Homo sapiens: one gene and its partners. The protein of the gene in region 2 purifies or fractionates together with the protein of the main gene of each other region. This does not show direct contact. Each region holds a gene or a part of one and is shown on either strand. Other genes may lie near its edges.

What was found.
Region 1: the proteins of LSM6 (region 2) and RIOK1 purify together in Homo sapiens (co-immunoprecipitation; 3 studies listed by BioGRID and IntAct, with this or other methods). This does not show direct contact.
Region 3: the proteins of LSM6 (region 2) and GEMIN2 purify together in Homo sapiens (affinity purification with mass spectrometry; 2 studies listed by BioGRID and IntAct, with this or other methods). This does not show direct contact.
Region 4: the proteins of LSM6 (region 2) and TUT1 purify together in Homo sapiens (co-immunoprecipitation; 3 studies listed by BioGRID and IntAct, with this or other methods). This does not show direct contact.
Region 5: the proteins of LSM6 (region 2) and COIL purify together in Homo sapiens (affinity purification with mass spectrometry; one large-scale study listed by BioGRID and IntAct). This does not show direct contact.
Region 6: the proteins of LSM6 (region 2) and COPRS purify together in Homo sapiens (co-immunoprecipitation; 3 studies listed by BioGRID and IntAct, with this or other methods). This does not show direct contact.
Region 7: the proteins of LSM6 (region 2) and AKAP7 purify together in Homo sapiens (affinity purification with mass spectrometry; 3 studies listed by BioGRID and IntAct, with this or other methods). This does not show direct contact.

Annotation. Positions count from the first base shown.
Region 1 is NC_000006.12:7,416,173-7,418,537, reverse strand, and holds the end of RIOK1 (serine/threonine-protein kinase RIO1), read right to left. Parts: intron 1,208-2,365; coding exon 1,097-1,207; 3' UTR 501-1,096; downstream 1-500. UniProt on the Homo sapiens protein: Involved in the final steps of cytoplasmic maturation of the 40S ribosomal subunit. Involved in processing of 18S-E pre-rRNA to the mature 18S rRNA. Required for the recycling of NOB1 and PNO1 from the late 40S precursor.
Region 2 is NC_000004.12:146,185,718-146,188,876, reverse strand, and holds part of LSM6 (U6 snRNA-associated Sm-like protein LSm6), read right to left. Parts: intron 1,604-3,159; coding exon 1,490-1,603; intron 1-1,489. UniProt on the Homo sapiens protein: Plays a role in pre-mRNA splicing as component of the U4/U6-U5 tri-snRNP complex that is involved in spliceosome assembly, and as component of the precatalytic spliceosome (spliceosome B complex).
Region 3 is NC_000014.9:39,131,323-39,134,397, forward strand, and holds part of GEMIN2 (gem-associated protein 2), read left to right. Parts: intron 1-635; coding exon 636-746; intron 747-2,338; coding exon 2,339-2,397; intron 2,398-3,075. UniProt on the Homo sapiens protein: The SMN complex catalyzes the assembly of small nuclear ribonucleoproteins (snRNPs), the building blocks of the spliceosome, and thereby plays an important role in the splicing of cellular pre-mRNAs.
Region 4 is NC_000011.10:62,581,524-62,585,023, reverse strand, and holds part of TUT1 (speckle targeted PIP5K1A-regulated poly(A) polymerase), read left to right. Parts: intron 1-3,322; coding exon 3,323-3,500. UniProt on the Homo sapiens protein: Poly(A) polymerase that creates the 3'-poly(A) tail of specific pre-mRNAs. Localizes to nuclear speckles together with PIP5K1A and mediates polyadenylation of a select set of mRNAs, such as HMOX1.
Region 5 is NC_000017.11:56,944,051-56,947,550, reverse strand, and holds part of COIL (coilin), read left to right. Parts: intron 1-1,039; coding exon 1,040-1,109; intron 1,110-3,500. UniProt on the Homo sapiens protein: Component of nuclear coiled bodies, also known as Cajal bodies or CBs, which are involved in the modification and assembly of nucleoplasmic snRNPs.
Region 6 is NC_000017.11:31,851,371-31,853,807, reverse strand, and holds the end of COPRS (coordinator of PRMT5 and differentiation stimulator), read left to right. Parts: intron 1-777; coding exon 778-996; intron 997-1,499; coding exon 1,500-1,669; 3' UTR 1,670-1,937; downstream 1,938-2,437. UniProt on the Homo sapiens protein: Histone-binding protein required for histone H4 methyltransferase activity of PRMT5.
Region 7 is NC_000006.12:131,159,467-131,162,966, forward strand, and holds part of AKAP7 (A-kinase anchoring protein 7), read left to right. Parts: intron 1-592; coding exon 593-732; intron 733-3,500. UniProt on the Homo sapiens protein: Probably targets cAMP-dependent protein kinase (PKA) to the cellular membrane or cytoskeletal structures.

The DNA of each region.
Region 1 (2,365 bases), on a different chromosome or scaffold from region 2:
TTTAAAACAGAAGTCAGATCATATCACTCCCCTGCCAAAACCCTCCCACAGCCGTACACTATCTGATTGCATCTACTACTTTCTCCCTTGATGATGATGTCTCAGCCCTGTTTCTGGAAGATGTCACGTACACTCCTGCCTCAGGGCTTTGCAACTGCTGGTTGTTCTGCCTGGCATGTTCTTCCTTCTTGTTATGCAAACAATTCACCTTCTTCAAGTATTTGCTCAAATATCAGCCCTCAGTAAGGCCTTTCCAAGAACCCTATTTTAAACTGCAAACTCTTTCATCTATAGGCGCCCTCTCATCTCTGCATTATTTCTCTCCATAGAATTTATCACCTGCTGATACACTGCTTTTTACTTACTTTGGTTAATGTCTTATCTTCCTATCAAAATGTAAACTACTCAAAGGTAGTAATTTTTGTCTAGTTTGTTTTCTGCTGTATCCCCAGCAACTAAAATACTCAAATTTTTGATGAATGAATGAATATGCCAAATGATTGAATTGTAAAAAACTTTATGAACTGAGAGGTCCTAACTCCAAAAAGAACATTAAAGACGAAGTGTAAGAGCATTACAAATGATCGCCAATACACACAAAGGCAGAGTTGCAGTGAAAATCAACAGCCAGCTGAACTGTGGGTGAAATTCCCTTTATATAAACATGGCCTTATAATCAGATGACCTCAGATGGGTCTCTGGTGTGTACAAAGAAAGCAAAACCAATTTTCCCATGAGTGCCTCTGGACACTCATGTAAGAGTTACAGATGTTGACTACATTTAAACATTTATCATGCTTCCAAAAACATATTTGTAAGAGAAAAAAATATAAAAATAAAAATGTACAAAGTTCTTTATTAAAATAATAGCTTAAATAAATCCTCTGTCAACACCAGACAGAGTCAGTGACTGGATCTAGACTCTAGAGCTTAGAGCTTTTTACATAGTTACATGAAAACATTTGAATCCGTCTTCACAGACAGTGCCACGATGACAATCTGGTTAAAACCAATAAGCCATCTTCCAGATGCAGCTTAAGAGTTCAGGCGAGAAAAGGAACTGAGGAAAATGACTGTACATAATATGGTTCTCATTCTATTTGCCTTTTTTCGTCTTGGCTGTCTTCTCCTTTCTTTTTTTCACATGTTTAGGAATTTTGTTTTTTCTTTTCTCTCTCTGGGCTTCCTTGACCATCTTTTTTCTTTCCTGTAAAAAACAAACAAAAAAGCCAACTTTCATTCATTTGGAGTATGCATTTTTTGTTTTTGTTTTTTGTTTTTTGTTTTTTAGACAGGGTCTTGCTCTGTCGCCCAGGCTGGAGTCAGTGGCGTGACCATGGTTCACTTCAGCCTCCACCTCCTGGGCTCAAGCAATCCTCCCACCTCAGCCTCCTGGGTAGCTGGGACAACAGGTGTGCACCACCACACCTGGCTAGGTTTTTTTGGGGTATTTTTTGGTAGAGATGGGGCTTCGCCAGATTGCACAGGCTGGTCTCGACCTCCTGGGCTCAAGTGATCCACCCACCTTGATCTCCCAAAATGCTGAGATTACAGGCATGAGCCACTGCACCCACCTGGAGTATTATTATGATTATAACTAAATAAAATACACACATAGAAGAATAAAAGTGAGTGTAATGTAAAGAAAAGAAAAGAAAATGATTATGGGTTGGTGGAGGAACTTGGGGTGAAAACTGTCTTTCAGTTTTTTCTTTTTAGAGACAGGGACTCACTCTGTCACCCAGGCAGGAGGGCAGTGGCATGACCATTGTGCACTGCAGCCTCAAGCTCCTGGGCTCAAGCAATCCTCTTGCCTCAACCTCCCCAGTAGCTGAGACTACAGGCATGAGCCACCATAACCGGCCTTGAGCTTCCTCTTTTTTTTTTTTTTTTTGAGACGGAGTCTCTGTCGCCCAGGCTGGCATGCAGTGGCGTGATCTCGGCTCACTGCAAGCTCCGCCTCCTGGGTTCACGCCATTCTCCTGCCTCAGCCTCCCAAGGAGCTGGGACTACAGGCGCCTGCCACCACGCCCGGCTAATTTTTTGTATTTTTAGTAGAGATAGGGTTTCACCATGTTAGCCAGGATGGTCTCGATCTCCTGACCTCGTGATCCACCTGCCTTGGCCTCCCAAAGTGATGGGATTACAGGCGTGAGCCACCGCGCCCAGCTGAGCTTCCTTAATAGAAATGTGAAGACAGCCAAACAGAAATATCCCTAAGAATGTTATTAAATGTTTGCAAATACTTTTCTTTACAAGTTCCATATTCTAACAGAAATAGACATTGGAAAGAGACAAAATATGTGTTTCTAGTAGACATATGAGAAAATATGCTAGCAGCTGAGTATGTCCCTCAGAAGTCTTG
Region 2 (3,159 bases):
TACCTTCTTAAATGCAACAGGATAAACAAGAGCTAAGGAGTTTATTTTTTATTTTTATTTTTTAATGATACCAAAGTCCTTATTCTGAGTTCCCGTTAAAAGTCTCATACTTTGGTGTTACCTAATGTTCTGCTTAGTGGTCTTCTCATGACTACCAACATGAACTCGTAGGATGTGTGGTCCGTAGGAATGAAACAAAATGAAATGCTTGGGTCACTTTGGCCAAACTAGAGGTGGTTCTCCCTTCCACCTTCCATGCCTACTCGGCTTCTGAGAGGTCTGCTCAAAGCGAACAGTAAGGTGTCTTCATCAAAGAACATAGCACAGATGAATCAAATAAGTCAAGATCCTCTTTAAGAGCCAATGATGTGAACTTGGGAGTCTAAAGATGAGTGTCACTGATTACATCATGGGAAATGTGACATGAAGGGAAGCATCAGAATGCCAGTACAGCCGCCCCCCAACCCTGCCCCCCAAGTCCTAGGGGTAGTGTGCACGTTAAAGGATCTACCCTATCAACACGCACAGAACCCAACCTGCCAGTGACTGCTGCCATTAGCTGTCTTGAGGTGAGACAAGATCATAACATTTCTTAGGAAAAAGAGGAGGTCAAATAAGGATATGAAAAATAGGATAAATAATTCTATAAATAGAAAGGACTAGAAAGCCAGGAAATAATGTATGTAAAAATATGATATGAAGAAATAAGGTCCTGTAAGCATAGGGGACAGACTCTTATTATAAAAGTCAGGAAGTTTAGTTTATAGCAAAGAGATCCAACTATTTAGGGGGTTGAAGACATCCAGAATTAAAGAAATCAACAAAAAATCTGAACTCAAGAATCCCAGAGTTTCTGGGAGATGGAACCAAAAAGTGGGGTAATTCTCATAATTCTGATATCTTTCCCTCCCCACCAAAAATACAAATATGACTTTATTATAATTTTCATTTTTAAACTAGGTACTTAAAAATAACTATAAAAATCATAGCAATTTATTAGTTGTTAAAAACTGAGTAACTTTTTCTATTTTGCCATTTTTGCCAAACTGAAGGATGCAAATCTGCATAGAAAGCATCTGAATGTTTAATAGAGAAGGGACAAATAGGACGAACTGCCAAATTATGCAAATCAAAGACAGCAGGGAAACGGTGCCCATTCTTACATCTCCAACTTCCAGGCTACAAGAAGCAGGAATATGTGTTGGGGAGATATACTACACTATATTCGAGAAAGCAGGGTTCCAGGTAAGGAGAACAATGTCCCTCAGTTCCTCATCACTAAAGGAAGGGAAGGAGAGAATTTTGGTTTCAAAATTCCATGAAGCATCTACAAAATAACTGGTCAAACTGAAGATCTGACATATAAGCATTTTAAAATAATCAAGCCTAAAAGTGGACTTTTAAATTATCTAGAAACCTCTTTGGTGATCTGGATTATAAATAGAAAGGCTTATTTTGAATGCTGTACTGTAGGGCGAAGAAATGTTACCATTGTTTCCTCGGATAAATGCATCCCCATACTTATTCTTCAGTTGTCCATTTACATATTCTTCTGTCTGCTCCAGGGCTATATTCATGTAGCCATCCAGGCAAGCCAGGACCCCTGCAGACATATTTAGTCAAAAAGAAGATACACAAGGCAAATAAGAGTTGAAAATTACAGGGTATACCTTAGAGCAGACAATCTCTTTATTCATTAGTTCTTAGATGCTTAATATAAAAATTCACACCATAAATGAAACTCAACAGCTTAAGCACAAAACAACTCTATGCCAATCTGAATGAAGTCTAGGAAGGCAGTCACGCACCCACTACTACCCGGTAAAACAACAAACTGTCACTTCCCTCATGGTACGTATGACCACACAGAAACTTTTAAAGCATTCAAAAAAGTAAGAGAATAAGACTATTCCGGCAAAAATACCATTCTTTGAAAGCTAAGCACAAGGTGGGCAATTATGCATAAACAAATGATCCTTGGTTCCAGTGGCATTTCCTACTTTAGCCACTAAGTGAAATACGGGTCTGGCAGATTTATTTCATTCTTTTACAACATCTATTGCAGCAGATGAATGTACTCCAGGGTTAAAAGGAAGTCTCCACAATCTGTTAAAATAATAGAAGAGGAGACAGCAGGTGCTCCCGAAAGAACATCTTAAAGCTGTGACTCACAGTGAAGAGCAGCTTGAGAATATAGGGCAACATATTGCATTATAACACATCTTGTTCTGTTTTGTTACAGCTATAATATTTTCCAATCAAAACTAATAGAGAAAATGGCCAAAAACATTCGAGGGAGCTTTCAAGGAAACAGTTTGAGTCAATCTTTAATTGTGTTAAGATGGTATAAATTTTGTAAAATTTGACCTGATGATCTTTTTCAAAAGATGAAAATCTGTAAGCCTCTAATTCTGTCTCTAATTTAAAGTGGTATTTCCTAGAAAAAAAAATTTAAGTAAAAACAAATACTAGATTCAATTCAGTCGAGTCTATAGTTTCTCATTTGATGTCTTAACTTCATTAATATGCTCCTCACTCTCTGCCTCTGCCCCCATTATCCTCTAAACAAAAAAGTTTCCTTTCAAAATTGTGTAATGACAGCAAAAGACATTAATCTACCAGAATTCTGCTAAAAGCGGTAAACTCTCAAAGAACGAGAATGGACTGTGAATAATAAAATTATTTCCTAGCAAAAGAAAGCTTAAGCTACAACTTTAGCTCGTTTCCTGCTGTACTATTTTACATACAAACTGCAATTATAAATGAGCAAGAAAAATCTGAGGCACAATATGCAAACCTGTTTGAAAACCAATGAAAAGAATTTCAAAATGAAATGTCCAGGCTGGGCAAAGTGGCTCATGCCTGTAATCCCAGTACTTTGGGAGGTAGAAGCTGGCAGATCACTTGAGGTCAGGAGTTCAAGATCAGCCTGGCTAACATGGCGAAACCCCGTCTCTACTAAAAATACAAAAATTAGCCAGGCATGGTGGCAGGTGCCTGTAATCCCAGCTACTTGGGAGGCTGAGGCAGGAGAATCGTCTGAACTTGGGAGGCGGAGGTTGCAGTGAGCCAAGACTGAGCCACTGCACTCCAGCCTGGGCGAAAGAGTGAGACTCGGTCTCAAAAAAGAAAAAAGAAAAAAAAAAAAGAGTTCACTTC
Region 3 (3,075 bases), on a different chromosome or scaffold from region 2:
AATAGGAAAAACAAGAACATTTTTAAAGTGAATCAAAGTTTGATCTGGAATGTTGGGACTGCAGGTTTTTTCTTGTGCTTGTGGTATTCTTCACAGTTTTTCTGCATCAAATATGTATTCATTTTGTAGCTGAAAACCCCATTTTAAAAGGGAGTGGGGATACATTGAGCCTGTCAAAGTATTTATAAAAGTGTCAAAAGATTATTTCATCTGTAGTATAGTTTCTTTGTATGTCCCCAGAGGACAAAATTATACAATTATAAAATGATTTCTATATCTGTCCATACAGAACAAAGAAAAAAATGTATCTTAATTTTTTCCAGTATTTATATTCATCTTAATGTAGTGTTCTGCTTACAAATGAGAACTTCCTATCATAAGAATATCTGAAACAAACTCTTTGGAGATCAGGGAATATTTTGAGGTATCCAATGTCCTGTGTCTGTAATTATAGGATACAAGAGATAACACCTGGCTCTCCAAATGAGGCTTTCTTGTCTATACCCAAACATAATATAGTTAAATGTTCTATGAATTTATTCATAGCAGATAATCAGGCATAACATTGGACATTTAAAAAATAAACTTCTGGTTCAGTATTTGTCTAAATATTAATTTTTTGAATTTTTTTTTAGGGAAGATGGCTTTATGCTTTATTGGCTTGTCTTGAAAAGCCTTTGTTACCTGAGGCTCATTCACTGATTCGGCAGCTTGCAAGAAGGTGCTCTGAAGTGAGGCTCTTAGTGGTAAGTTGCAACTTACTGTTTAAAATTAAAAGCACCCACCAATTTATATGGTGGTAAAGAAGGAGTTCAGTGAAATAGGAAAACACATGGAATATTTTATTGGTGGCAATTAGATTTGTAAAGCCCAAAATAATAGTAGCTTAAATAATATGGAAATGTTTTCTGAGATAAAGAAGTCTGAGCCGGGCGTGGTGGCTCACACCTATAATCCCAGCACTTTGGGAGGCTGAGGCGGGTGGCTCACCTGAGGTCAGGAGTTTGAGACCAACCTGGCCCACATGGTGAAACCCCGTCTCTACTAAAAATACAAAATTTAGCTGGGTGTGGTGGTGGGTGCTTGTCATCCCAGCTACTCAGGAGGCTGAGGCAGGAGAATCGTTCGAACCCAGGAGGCGGAGGTTGCAGTGAGCTGAGATTGCACCACTGCACTCCTGCCTGGGCAACAGAGCAAGACTCTGTCTCAAAAAAGAAGTAGGTAAAAAAATTAGATTTTTACTAAGATGGCAGTAACCCACCCACACCTTTGAGTTTTGTCATATGTGGCTTTCATCCTCATGCTCATCTTATGATCCAAGATGGCTGCTGTAGCTTCAGCCTTTTTTTTTTTTTTTTTTTTTTCTTTTATTGTGAGATGGAGTCTCGCTCTGTCACCGAGGCTGGAGTGCAATGGTGCGGTCTCGGCTCACTGCAACCTCCGCTTCCCAGGTTCAAGCAATTCTCCTGCCTTAGCCTCCAGAGTAGCTGAGATTACAGGTGCCCGCCACCATGCCTGGCTAATTTTTGTATTTTTAGTAGAGACAGGGTTTCACCATGTTGGCCAGACTGGTCTCAAACTGCTGACTTCAAGTGATCCACCTGCCTCAGCCTCCCAAAGTGCTGGGATTACAGGCATGAGCTACTGCACCTGGTGTGTGTGTGTGTGTGTGTGTGTGTATATATATGTGTGTGTGTGTGTGTGTATATATATATATCTTTATATATATATCTTTATATAATTCAGTAATGAATATATATAAGAACAGTAAGAATCCTGTGTCTTGACTGTACAGTGATTAATATATATTATATATATTCATATATATTCTATATATATCCTCACATATATTGTATGCATTATATAGAGGAACAATAAGAATCCTGTGTCTTGACTACAGTGATAAATATATTTATTCATATATGTATATTAATATATATTTATTATATATGAATACATATTCACTACAGTTAAGACACATATATAATATATATGAATATATATATATATATTCATCACTGTACAGTTAAGACACAGGATTCTTATTGTTCCTTTAGTAGGAACCAGGGAAAAATTTCCCCCAAGTTATCCCCCTTAGATCCCTCTTTATTTTTTTTTCCCTATTCAGAATCTTTATTTAAAAGATAGTCTTAGATGTTTCTCAAGGAATCATTAACTCTACAGTTCTCTGCTTTTTCTTTGAGGGCTCCTATTTCCACATGATGATTACTGTCATATAATAAAGTTTTCATGTTTCGTGTTTTACATCTTAATAGAAAATTTATTTCAAAAGTAATAGGAACAGACAATATTTAAATTTTTCTTTTTTTTTTTTTAGGATAGCAAAGATGATGAGAGGGTTCCTGCTTTGAATTTATTAATCTGCTTGGTTAGCAGGTATAGTTAATCCTTGGCTTCTTTATTATTTATCAGTGAGGTCAGTGAGGTTAGATCGTATTTATTACATTTGGTTTTTGTTTGGTTGGTTTTTTTTTGAGTCTCACTCTGTTGCTATAGTTAGGGTGCAGTGGCGCAATCACAGCTCACTAGAGCTTTAACTTCCTGGGCTCCAGCAATCCTCCCACCTCAGCCTCCTGAGTAGCTAGGACCACAACCAAGCACCACCACACCTGGCTAATTAAAAAAAATTGTTCGTAGAGACAGGGTCTCACTATGTTGCCCAGGCTGGTCTCAAAACTCCTGGGCTCAAGCGATCCTCCCACCTAAGCCTCCGAAAGTGCAGGGATTACAGGTGTAAAGCCACTGCATTCAGCCTGCATTTTTGTTTAATTGCCTGTGTCCTGCGTTCATTTTCAGTTGTGGCATATTTTTATTTAGTATCTGTTTTATTTCATTTCTTACATAGAAATTCTTCTTGGAATTTATTTGAAAACTTTTTTTGTTGTTTTGTTTTGAGACAGAGTCTCGCTCTGTTGCCCAGGCTGGAGTGCAATGGCACCATCTCGGCTCACTACAACCTTCACCTCCTGGGTTCAAGCAATTCTCCCCCCTCAGCCTCCCAAGTAGCTGGGCTTACAGGCACCTGCCATCATGCCCGGCTAATTTTTGTAATTT
Region 4 (3,500 bases), on a different chromosome or scaffold from region 2:
ATGGTGAAACCGTCTCTACTAAAAATACAAAAAAATTAGCTGGGCGTAGTGGCAGATTCCTGTAATCCCAGCTATTCAGGAGACTGAGGCAGGAGAATTGCTTGAACCCGAGAGGCGGAGGTTGGAGTGAGCCGAGATCGTGCCACTGCACTCCAGCCTGGGCAACAGAGCGAGACTCCTTCTCAAAAAAAAAAAGTAAAATAAAATAAATAGTATACAATTCATTGGTTGGTTATTTACTATTGGGTAAAAAAATAAACAAACAAAAAGTATACAATTGGCTGGGCATGGTGGCTCATGGCCTGTAATCCCAGCACTTTGGGAGGCCGAGGCAGGTGGATCACCTAAGGTTAGGAGTTGGAGACCAGCCTGGCCAACATGGTGAAACCCCATCTCTACTAAAAATACAAAAAATTACCTGGGTGTGGTGGTGGGCACCTATAATCCTAGCTACTCGGGAGGCAGAAAGCAGGAGAATCACTTGAACCTGGGAGGCAGAGGTTGCTGTGAGCCAAGATCGTGCCACTGCACTCCAGCCTGGGTGACAGAACGAAACTCCATCTCAAAAAAAAAAAAAAAAAAAGTATACAATTTAGGGGTGGGTGTGGTGGCTGATACCTGTAATCCCAGCCCTCTGGGAGGCCGAGGTGGGAGGATCACTTGAGATCAGGAGTTTGAGACCAGCCTGGCTAATGTGGTGAAACCACATCTCTATTAAAAATACAAAAATTAGCCAGGTGTAGTGGTGCGTGTCTTTGATTCCAGCTACTAGGGAGGCTGAGGTAGGATAATTGCTTGAACCCCGGGAGGCAGAGGTAATAATGAGCCGAGAGTGTGCCACTGTACTCAAGTCTGAGTGACAGAGACACTCTGTCTCAAAAAAAAAAAAAAAAAAATACAATTCAGTGAGTGTTAGTATATTCACAGGGTTCTTCAACCCTCATGACTGATTCCAGAATGTTTTCACCACTCCAAAAAGAAACGCCTTATCCTTTCTTGGTTACTTCCCATTTGTGATTTAGGCCTGTGTACTGGTGAAGCCATCCTCCTGGTTGAGTTAATTGTTATGTATGGTGTGAGGTAAAGGTTCAACATCATTGTTTTGCATGTGGCTATCCAGTTGTCCCAGCACAATTTGTTGACAAGACTGTTCTTTCCCCATTGAATCTTCTTGACACCGTTGTTCAAAATCAGTTGACCAAAGATGTGTGAATTTCTTTCAGGGTCTCAATTCCATTCCCTTCATCTGAATGTCTATCTTTATGCTAGCACCACTCTGTCTTGGTGCTACCTTACTCTAGCAGGAACCTTTTTATAAACAAGATGAGGGTCCAGCTTTACCATTGGAGGATATAAAAGAATATGGACTTTTTTGCCTAAAGCAGTCCTGTTTTTCCTCTTCTTTTTTTTTCTTTTTGAGACGGAGATTCGCTCTTGTTGTCCAGACTGGACAGACTGGAGTACAATGCACAATCTCGGCTCACAGTAACCTCCGCCTCCCGGGTTCAAGCAATTGCCTCCTGAGTAGCTGGGATTACAGGCATGCACCACCATATCTGGCTAATTTTGTATTTTTAGTGGAGATGGGGTTTTGCCATGTTGGTCAGGCTGGTTTTGAACTCCTGACCTCAAGTGATCCACCCGCCTAGGCCTCCCAAAGTGTTGAGATTAGGCGTGAGCTACTGCGCCCGGCGTTTTTCCTCTTCTTGCTAATATTTTACCTTTAAAAAAATATGGCCAGTGAATATCATTGAACTCACCAACTTACAACAATATAGTTGTTATATTGCTGTTATTCCTAGATAGTGAGTTCTTGAAGACAGGGTTTATGAGTTTGTATTTATGCCTCGCACAGTGTTTATTACATGAATTGATTTTTTTTTTTTTTTTTTTTTGGAGACAGAGTCTCCCACTGTCGCCCAGGCTGGAGTGCAGTGGCGCCATCTCAGCTCACTGCAAGCTCCGCCTCCTGGGTTCATGCCATTCTCCTGCCTTAGCCTCCCTAGTAGCTGGGACTACAGGCGCCCACCACCACGCCTGGCTAATTTTTTGTATTTTTAGTAGAGACGGGGTTTCACCATGTTAGCCAGGATGGTCTCTATCTCCTGACCTCGTGATCCACCCACCTCGGCCTCCTAAAGTGCTGGGATTACAGGCGTGAGCCACTGCACCCAGCTGCATGAATTGATTTTTTAAAAGATTTTTAAAGTGGACTCATTCTGTTACATGGATCCTTAATAAATGTTTAAAAAAATTCTAATTATATCAGGAAAAGTTATAGGGTGGGTCATAGTGTAATCACATCATTGGGAAGAGTAGGGGACAAATAATGTAGATAAAATGAGGTTTTTAGAGGCAGACTGGGGTGAGAGTAAAATGTTTGGAATAGGAGTGAGGGAAAGAATTGTTTTTCTACTTTTTTTTGAGACAGGGTCTCGCTGTCTCTCAGGCTGGTGTGTAGTGGTGCAATCACAATCACAGCTCACTGCAGCCTCAACATCCTGGGCCCAAGTGATGCTCTTATCATAGCCTCCCAAGTAATTGGAACTACAGGTGTGTGCTGCCATGCCTGGCTAATTTTCTTTTTCTTTTCTTTTTTTTTTTGAGACAGGGTGTGGTTGTGTCACCCAGACTGGAGTGCAGTGGTGCGATCTCGGCTCATTGCAATCTCAGCCCCCGGGCTCAAGCAATCCTCCCATCTCTTCCTCTCCAGTAGCTGGGATTACCTGGCTAATTTAAAAAAATTGTACTGGCCAGGTGCAGTGGCTCACACCTGTAATCCCAGCACTTTAGGAGGCCGAGTTTAGGAGTTTAGGAATTAGAGACCAGCCTGGCCAACATGGTGAAACCCCATTTTTACTGAAAATACAAAAATTAGCTGGGCATGGTGGCATGTGCCTGTAATCCCAGCTACTAGGGAGACTGAGGCAGGAGAATCGCTGGAACCTGGGAGGCAGAGGTTGCAGTAAGCCGAGATCACCCCGCTGCACTCCAGCCTGGGTGACAGAGTAAGACTCCATCTCAAAAAAAAAAAATTGTTTGTAGAGATGGGATCTCACTATGTTGCCCTGGTTGGTCTCCAACTCCTGGGCTCAAGCAGTTCTCCTGCCTCAGCCTCCCAAAGTGCTGGGATTACAGGCATGAGTCACTGCACCTGGCTGAAAATTGCTTTTCTAGATATGTCCCCTGTTATTATGAAAACAGCAAGCAAATATTCTCAATTTATGGGATAGTCTCCATTTCAAATATTCTCATCCACTGTAGATCTCGTGCTTAGATTCTTGGTTCCAAAATCATCATCTCTGCCCCTGTTGTTTACCAGGGAGTGTTTGCCATTGTGGAGATGGGGGACGTGGGTGCTCGAGAGGCTGTCTTGTCACAGTCCCAGCACAGCCTGGGAGGACATCGCCTGCGTGTCCGCCCACGGGAGCAGAAGGAGTTCCAGAGCCCGGCCTCCAAATCCCCCAAAGGAGCGGCCCCCGACAGTCACCAGCTGGCCA
Region 5 (3,500 bases), on a different chromosome or scaffold from region 2:
TGCAGTGAGCTGAGATCATGCCACTGCACTCCAGCCTGGGTGACAAAACGAGACTCTTAAAAAAAATTGCATATTAAATTGGTATTAGTTGTCATAGTTATTAATGTTGGAAGGTGTTTTGCCTACTTTAGTTGGCAAAATTTTTTGAAGATTTTTGAAATTGCTTTCAAAAACATTTTAAGAATGAAAATTGGTCCTACTTTTTTGCTTTGACCTCAAACGCAGTTATCCAGCTTGATCATCTGCTTTATTCATTAACCTTGTCTCCAAAAATTAAATTGGTTCAATTCTGTACTAAAAAATGTAGTCTCCCAAGCCCCTGATTCCCTGTTGAGTCTGGTTTTAAAAAAAACTGTTGACTGTGCTCAGAAATTCCAGGTAGAGGCAGGAGGAACTGGTTGCTTGGCCTCTCAGTATATACCCCCGGAGGCTACCATGTGTCTCCCCATCGCCCACGTGCATGGGCAGTGCATCCTCTTGATGCATTAGAAAATCAGCTCCCACAGCTGGAGACCTGGGAGAAGGAGAATTGGGATCTTAACAGTGATAAAGTGCCTTCTGGTTTCTCCTGGGGGGTTGTGATCACTGTTTTAGAAGGGTTCTAAAAGCATCAGGAACCGAGGCTGCACCATTAGGATATATCTAGTCTCTCCTGATGAATGCTGTGATGGTCAGTGCTCACTTGAATATATCAGCCTGGTGTGATTTTTTTCTCCTTTTCCCTTATTCAGTCACTTTTGGTTCCCTGGTGTAATCTTTACTTTCATCGAGTTATTTAAGATAGTGTCTGCCATTTATGATTTAAATGTTTTATTTTGCCTCTAAAGATATTTCTGTATATTCACATAAAGTGTTTATCAGTCCACCTGTTTTTATTTTCTCTATATGTGGATTTATTTCTAAATTTTTCAACTGAGATAAAATTCACATAACATAAAATTCAACATTTTAACCATTTTAAAGTCTACAATTCAGTGGTTTTTAGTATATTCACAGTGTTTTACATGTTGATTTTGACTTGGACTTTTATTTTTGAAAGGAAGGAAGAATATTAAGCCACAATCCAGAGACCCAGCAAGTAGATATAGAAATTCTTTCATCCTTACCTGGTGAGTCTTTTAGAAAATAATTTGAAAATGTAGGCTCTATCTACAGTGGTTTATAAATAGCTTTTATACACAGGAGATGTTCTCTTCCTTGGCCTCCATATAACTGGCGCTCCCCACTTCTTTCAGCACACTTTAGCCCTGGGGGCTCATAAGAGATGTTGGATATATTCCAAAGCTGTTGGGCTAGTTCTTATTACTGTAATTATATAATTTCATAAAAGATTATATGAACTGATGAAAATCGATTATAAAAAGAATTATTCCTAGGAAGCCTAAGTTGAATGCTGACTCAGGAAATGCTATGAAATTATGGATGAGTGGGTCAGCTATAAAAGATTGGGAGGAATTTTGTAAAAACTGAGGAAGATTCTGCACTTAGATTGCCTTGCAAATTTTTGCAATCTTGCCTTATTTAAGAAAAACCCAGGCTGGGCACGGTGGCTCACACCTGTAATCCCTGCACTTTGGGAGGCCAAGGTTGGTGGATCACTTGAGGTCAGGAGTTTGAGACCATCCTGGCCAACATGGTGAAACCCTGTCTCTACTAAAAATACAAAAATTAGCCGGGCGTCATGGCACACGCCTGTAATCCCACCTACTGGAAAGGTTGAGGCAGGAGAATCGCTTGAACCCGGGAGGTGGAGGTTGCAGTGAGCCGAGATAGTGCAACTGCCTTCCAGACTGAGTGACAGAGCAAGACTTAGTCTCAAAAAATATTTTAAAAACCCCCAAACTGTAAATTGTGGAAATTGCAGACAATACAATGGTATGGTTTATTAAAAAAAGAGCTCTATTCAGTGAACTCATAAGACCTACTCAGCTCTATTTCAAAAGATTGTCAAATGAATATACTTTTGTATATTAAGTCAAAACAAAATGTCTGAAGTGTGTGTATACATACACTTTCACATATCATTTTAAATGGTTGCTGGATTTATCTCTGATGAACCCCACCTGGTACTGGAACTGAATGCGTGGAATAAGAGGGCTTTTATAATATGTAGCTTAACTTGGGGTGTACTGTAGGGGTCCCTGGCCAGAGGGCAGGGGAGATTCCTTTTCCTTTAGAAGATCCTAAAGCAATTAATTGTTTTCCTTTTTTTTTTGACAGAGTCTCACTCTATCGCCCAGGCTGGAGTGTGGTGGCACAATCTTGGCTCACTGCAGCCTCCGCCTCCCAGGTTCAAGTGATTCTCATGCCTCAGCTTGCAGAGTAGTTGGGACTACAGGCACACACCACCATGTCCAGCTAATTTTTGTATTTTTAGTAGAGATGGATTTTGACATGTTGGCCAGGTTGGTCTTGAATTCTTGGCCTCAAGCAATCCACCTGCCTTGGCCTCCCAAAGTGCTGAGACTACAGGTGTGAGCCACTGTGCCCAGCCTGTTTTCTGTTTGTTTGTTTGTTTGTTTGTTTGTTTATTTTTGAGACGGAGTGTTGCTGTCGCCCAGGCTGGAGTGCAGTGGCGCTATCTTGGCTCACTGCAAGCTCTGCCTCCCAGGTTCGCACCATCCTCCTGCCTCAGCCTCCCGAGTAGCTGGAACTACAGGCGCTGGCCGCCATGCCCGGCTAATTTTTTGTATTTTTAGTAGAGACGGGGTTTTACCATGTTAGCCAGGATGGTCTCGATCTCCTGACCTCGTGATCCACCCACCTTGGCCTCCCAAAGTGTTGAGGTTACAGGCATGAACCACCGCACCTGGCCTTCTGTTTATTTTTAGATAAGGGATTGAATAAAAGATTCAGCTAACAGAAATCAGTCGAAAGAGTTTTTGAACAAAGTTCGTTTATGATATTAAGTAAATGTTTATATATAACTTACACTGGGTTCCTACCTTTCTTTTTTTTTTGAGATGGAGTCTCACTCTGTTGTCCAGGCTGGAGTGCAGTGGGCGATCTCGGCTCAGTGCAAGCTCCGCCTCCCGGGTTCACGCCATTCTCCTGCCTCAGCCTCCCGAGCAGCTGGGACTACAGGCACCCGCCACCACACCTGGCTAATTTTTTGTATTTTTAGTAGAGATGGGGTTTCACTGTGTTAGCCAGGACGGTCTCGATCTCCTGACCTCGTGATCCTCCCACCTCAGCCTCCCAAAGTGCTGGGATTACAGGCATGAGCCACCGTGCCTGGCCAGGTTTCCAACCTTTCTTCTGATGAGATTTCATTTATAGAAATCCCCTTTCTTAGGAACGGTGGACAGAAAAGTTTGTCCACTGTCAAATTCTGTGCATACAGCCTGATCAGTGCTTGTCAGGTGATTAATAGTGATGACATCCACTTAGAACTTTTCTTCTTTAGGGCATCAAGAAATGGCTTCGGGGGCGAAGGTGGGAGGATCACTTGAGCCCAGGAGTTCAAGACCAGCCTGGGCAGCATAGTGAGACTCTGTCGT
Region 6 (2,437 bases), on a different chromosome or scaffold from region 2:
CTAGGTGCTGCCCATTGTGATTAGATGGGTTCTGGTCTTCTGCCTGCAGTGCCCCTGCTCCCCTTTGTCCCTGTGCTCACCTCTAACATGCTCTTTGAGGCTGAAGGGAGGAATAAAAGAGCAAAAACAACCGGGCACAGTGGCTTACGCCTGTAATCCCAGCACTTTGGGAGGCCGAGGCGGGTGGATCACAAGGTCAGGGGTTCAAGACCAGCCTGGCCAAGATGGTGAAACCCCGTCTCTACTAAAAATACAAAAAAATTAGCTGGGCGTGGTGGCGGGCGCTTGTAATCCCAGCTGCTCAGGAGGCTGAGGCAGAGAATTGCTTGAACCTGGGAGGTAGAGGTTGCAGTGAGCCGAGATGGTGCCATTGCATTCCAGCCTGGGCGACAGAGCGAGACTCTGTCTCAAAAAAAAAAAAAAAAGAGCAAAAACTTAATTCAGGCTTGTATTGTGAAAGTGTATTATTTATCAGAGGCCCTTTGCCTCAGTGACATACAAACCACCTGAAAATGTTAACTGTCCCTAGCCCTCTTTGTAAATTAAAGGACCTGACAATTAATGCCTTGTATAAGACAAAACGTCTTATTGAAAATAAATTATCAGCTCTTTTAAAAACATACAAAGAAGTGCATTTTTAAAAAAGTGCTCGGTGGCTAAAGAAGACTCTGTGCACTTGTTTTACTACCTTCGTAGTAAGTCTGCCCAAAATTTACTGAGCACAGAGCAGGTCCTCTTTGGTTTGTCACTAAGGCCATCTTCTCTTTGTCAATTTAGCCCGTGGAACACAGAGCATTCCTAATGACAGTCCTGCCCGGGGTGAGGGCACCCATTCTGAAGAGGAAGGCTTTGCCATGGATGAGGAGGACTCTGATGGAGAACTGAATACCTGGGAGCTGTCAGAAGGGACAAACTGTCCACCCAAGGAACAGCCTGGCGATCTTTTTAATGAGGACTGGGACTCGGAGTTGAAAGCAGATCAAGGGAATCCATATGGTAGGTGTGGAGTCTCTGGGGGTCCTGAACTAGGCCTTCTCAGACACACCTGTCAGACCAGCCCTGAAGGCAGTTTGGAACAGGGGTCCACATCTATGAGCTTAGGCTGGTATCTGTTACAGGTCTCCAATTTCTGTGACACCTTCTCTTTTATATTGAAAAAATCCAAATTTTGCATTTGACTCCATAATGTATCACTGTTTTAAAGTCAAAACTGTTACTCTCTCCAAAAATCTCTGCTATGAATTGAGCAGCTGCAGATAGAAGTGCTGTGTTATCCAGTTTGCTTCTTCACTGCTAAGAACCCTTGTCTGAGAAGCATAGCTTCTCAGCTGTTCCGAATGAACGCATTTACAATTCTTCAGGAAAGGAGAACTGTGTGTGTTTTTAAACAAAATAAGTGCAAGGATCTGTCCCCTAGACATACCTTTTTGGCTGTCCGTTTTTACCTTCCTTCCTTCCCTCCTTCCTTCCCTTAATCTGTCTTTTAAAACTGCCTGCAGATGCTGACGACATCCAGGAGAGCATTTCTCAAGAGCTTAAACCTTGGGTGTGCTGTGCCCCACAAGGAGACATGATCTATGACCCCAGCTGGCACCATCCGCCTCCACTGATACCCTATTATTCCAAGATGGTCTTTGAAACAGGACAGTTTGACGATGCTGAAGATTGAGTGTGGAGCTTTCTGCCTTGTAGGTGGGCGGGCCTCCACGTCAAGATCTCTTTTCCTGTCTTGGAGGTGAAAAGTCATATCTGAGAAAATGTTTGCAGTGACCCCTAGTCTGGGGTACACAGACCAGTGTTCCTTATTGACAGTGTTCAATAAGGCCCCGTCATTCTCGCCAGTCTGTTGTTGTTCTTAATGGGCTCCTCCTTGAAATGTGTGTGTGTTTGTGTCAAGAGGAGTTGTGTTCTTTGTAAATAAAGGTTAAAAAGAGAAACCAGTATGCTTCGTCTGCTTTTTTCCCATTTATTTATTTATGGAGACAGTCTCACTGTGTCACGCAGGCTGGAGTGCAGCAGCGCGAACTTGGCTCGTTGGAACCTCCACCTCCTGGGTTTAAGCGATTTTTGTGCCTCAGCCTCCTGAGTAGCTGGGACTATAGGTGCTCGCCACCACACCCGGCTAATTTTTTGTATTTTTAGTAGAGATGGGGTTTCACCACGTTGGCCAGGCTGTTCTCAAATTCCTGGCCTCAAGTAATCCACCCGCCTTGGCCTCCCAAAGTGCTGGGATTACAGGTGTGAGCCACCGTGCCCAGCCTTCACTACTTCATTTAAAGTCCCTGAATGACATTTTAAAGATTCAAACGCTTGGAGGCTTAAAACTACTCTGTGAAAGAAAAAAAATTTTAGTTTTGCTTCTGTAGATCTAGCACTGTTGACCAAGGATTGGAATCCAGGAGACACTGGTGATTTTGTAGCTGATTGTTTTCCTGTT
Region 7 (3,500 bases), on a different chromosome or scaffold from region 2:
TTATTAGAAAATGAAATAAAAGAAAAGACCTACAAAGTAGGAATCAAAATTCAGCAGACCAAATTATTCTGCCCCATTGCTATGGAAGTTTCCAAAGCATTCTCTTAATTTTTGCAACAAATAGTTTATAGTGTGACAGTGGCCCCAGACCAAAACTTTGTGTGGCAGTAGGGTTATACCCTAGAAGTTACAAACATACCTATACAGGATGGTTGAAGAAATGATCTTTCTTAGTGTTATGAACATTGTGGTGCCGGGAGCTGTGCTTCAGATCATGAGTCAGCTCACTATGGCCCTCAGGCCAAATCTGGTTAACCACCCTGCTTTGAAAATAAAGCAGGAACACAACTGTACCCACTCATTTATGTTTTGTCTACAGCAGAGTTGAGTAGTTAACGGCAGAGACTATGTCATCTGCAATGCCTAAACTATTTACTATGAGGTCCTTTACAGAAATGTTTGCAAACTCCTGCTTTAGATTTGAAAATGACACTGATGAATGATTGCTACTTATATATTGCTTGTTTTTTTTTCTGACTGTATTATCTTTGTTTAAATGTATTAGACGTATTGTTTGACTTTTTTCCTCTAGTCACTGATGAACCTCAAATAAATTTGAAGAGAAGTCAAGAAAATGAATGGGTCAAGAGTGATCAAGTAAAGAAGAGGAAAAAAAAGAGAAAAGATTATCAACCCAACTATTTCCTGTCCATTCCAATCACCAACAAAGAGGTGCTATTTTTAAAAAGTTATTTTTACTGTGAAATTTTATTCTAAATTTAAAGTACAACTAAATGCTTATTAGCCCACTTGCTCTTAGCTTTTAAGAGTATTTGGTGGCATTTTAGCAGGACTGTCCAGGGAATATTTCTGTTTAAGTAATAGAAATGTATTTAAACAACAGGTTTGGAAAATATCATTTGTTTTTCTGAGACAGGGTCTTGCTCTGGCACCCAGGCTGGAGTGCAGTGGCACAGTCATAGCTCACTGCAGCTTTGAACTCCTGGACTCAAGCAGTCTTTCCACCTCAGCCTCCAAAAATATTTAGACAATCATATTTAAACGGTAATTTTGCAAAATCCACTTGAAAAAGTGTTGCCAGATGGCATGTCAAGGTCATTTGCAAGTGTTTGTTCATTTTATCTGAGGGAACTTTTGGAAGTAGAGAGAAATGACCAGTTGAAAAAAGAGGATTCTGAGATCTCTGTTGGGAAGGTAAACTGGGGTTTCTTGCTGCTTAATCTTGTTTATTATAGTGATTATTTCAACATAGTTTCTTTAAAAAATTACTCAGTATTGTAACAACTTAATATTGCACCATTAAACTTGGTAAAAATCTATTAAAATCTGAAAAATTAATGCAATAAATAATAGGAAATGGAACTAGCCAGTTAGCTCATACTGAGAAACCCCTGAGAGAGAAAACTACTGCATCTCATTACAACCACTGAAGCGGTGAGGTAGGAATTAAAATCCCTCAGGAAAGAACACCTCACTTGGAAGACTGACTGTTTTTACCCTTTGGCCCAATTACGAGCCAGATTTGAATTTCTGTTTGATTGTGGGTGATAATCTCTTTGACCAGGCACATTTCCACATTGCCTTTCCCCTTGTTTAACTAGAATGTCTCTAGGGAATGCTAACAAATTGTTAAAAATCAAATCAAAATTAAAATGAAAGAAATATCAAAAGAAAAAATAAATTATTTTGGGTCATTCTAGGAAATATCTAGTCTGTGAGACACAGTTTAGCTGGGGAGAAGATATACATAACAAGAGAAGAGTTACCTAGCCATATAAGATTTTAGATTTGATGTACTGAAGAATCATATTCTGATTTTACTGATACATATTTGATTCCTTTGGTTGAGGAATACTTTTTAAAAGTCCTAATAAGGGCCAGGTGTGGTGGCTCATGCCTGTAATCCCAGCACTTTGGGAAGCTGAGGTGGATGGATCCCTCGAGCCCAGGAGTTTGAGACCAGCCTGGGCAACATGGCAAAACCCCATCTTTACTAAATATACAAAAACTAGCTGGGCATGGTGGCTCACACCTGTGGTCCTAGCTACTTGGGAGGCTGAGGTGGGAGGATTGCTTGAGTCCAGGAGGCAGAGGTTGCAGTGAGCCAAGGTTGTGCCACTGCACTCCAGCCTGGGTGACAGAGCCAGACTGTATCTCAAAAAAAAAAAAAAAAAAAAAAAAAAAAAAAAAAAAAAAATTAAAGGTCCTAGTGCAATAGTCATTAAAAGTGTTTAGGCAATACAAAGTTAGTGTAATCAGCAATTATACATTTTATTAAAATACTTGCAAGTTTGGTTTGAAATTTAGGATCACGTATACCTGTGGGGATTAGAAGAGCTCAGGGAGTGAAAGGTGCTGCTGCTTTCATGAGCAGCCAGACAGAAGCCAGGTCCTAAGGACACTGAATGTCAGACAGTTGAAGTGACTTCCCTATGGACACATGATTTGTGATTGGAAGAGAATCCAGGTTCTGTATTTTGATTTGACAGATGTTCGATGAACACCTCTGGGTGTCACTTTCCCTAGGCCGCTCATTTTCTGCTTCTCCCTTCACCTGTATTCCTTACTCCTAGGGGAGACTGAGCAGCATCTCTGCATCACCCCCATGTCTGCCCTCTCTCCCCTCCTAGCTGTGTTATGGCTTCTTACCCCTTCCGGAGAAGACTGATGGGATGATGTGCTGATGGGATAGGGAAGGTGGGGAAGGGGATTGAGAGGAAGGAAGAGAAAAAAATTCTTTCCTTTCACCACTAACTTCTAGGCTTTGCATCACAAAGGTGAAGGGAGAAAGGGGATGAGAGTCCTGTCCGCAGCTTTTAGTTTTCATCCTTTAACCTGCTGTAGCCTTTGTTTCTGCCTCTCTACCCCTGTAAAGTTGTGTAGATGCTGGAAAGAGTGCAGGCTTTGGGTCTGACAGACTTGTTAGTCCCAGCTGAGTCACAGACTCCGCTGCATGTGCAGGTCAGGTTACCTAAATTTTTCAAGTTTCAGTTTGTTCAGGTGTAAAATGAGGTGGGTGATAATACCTCCTTTAGATGACTATTTTTTAAACCCGAATATAGCCGTGTCACCAACCTGCTTATATACTTCAGGATTTTCCCATCGATAGGATAAAGACAACCTCTTTTCCATGTTCTCTGAGGTTTTGTCGTTGTTCGTCTCTCCTTCAGCCCTTGCTTTTTCTGCCCGAGCTCTTCTACCCTTCCTTGGGCTTGCCAGGTTCCCTTGGCCCCAGGAAAAGCCTTCTCTGGCTGGAGCTTTCTCTTTGCTCCTCTTGGTTTTGTTAATGCCGGAATCTCAGCTCAAACCTCTCTACCCATGACCACCTCGTCTAGGTCAACTATCCCTTTCCTTGCCCCATTCCTGTCAGCTAAAGGCTTTCACAGCTTTCTGTATGCCATTTGTCATCCTTGCAACTTGACACTTGTCTTCCTCACAAGGTTTTTAGTGCATGCCCATACCTAGACTGGTGTTTGTTC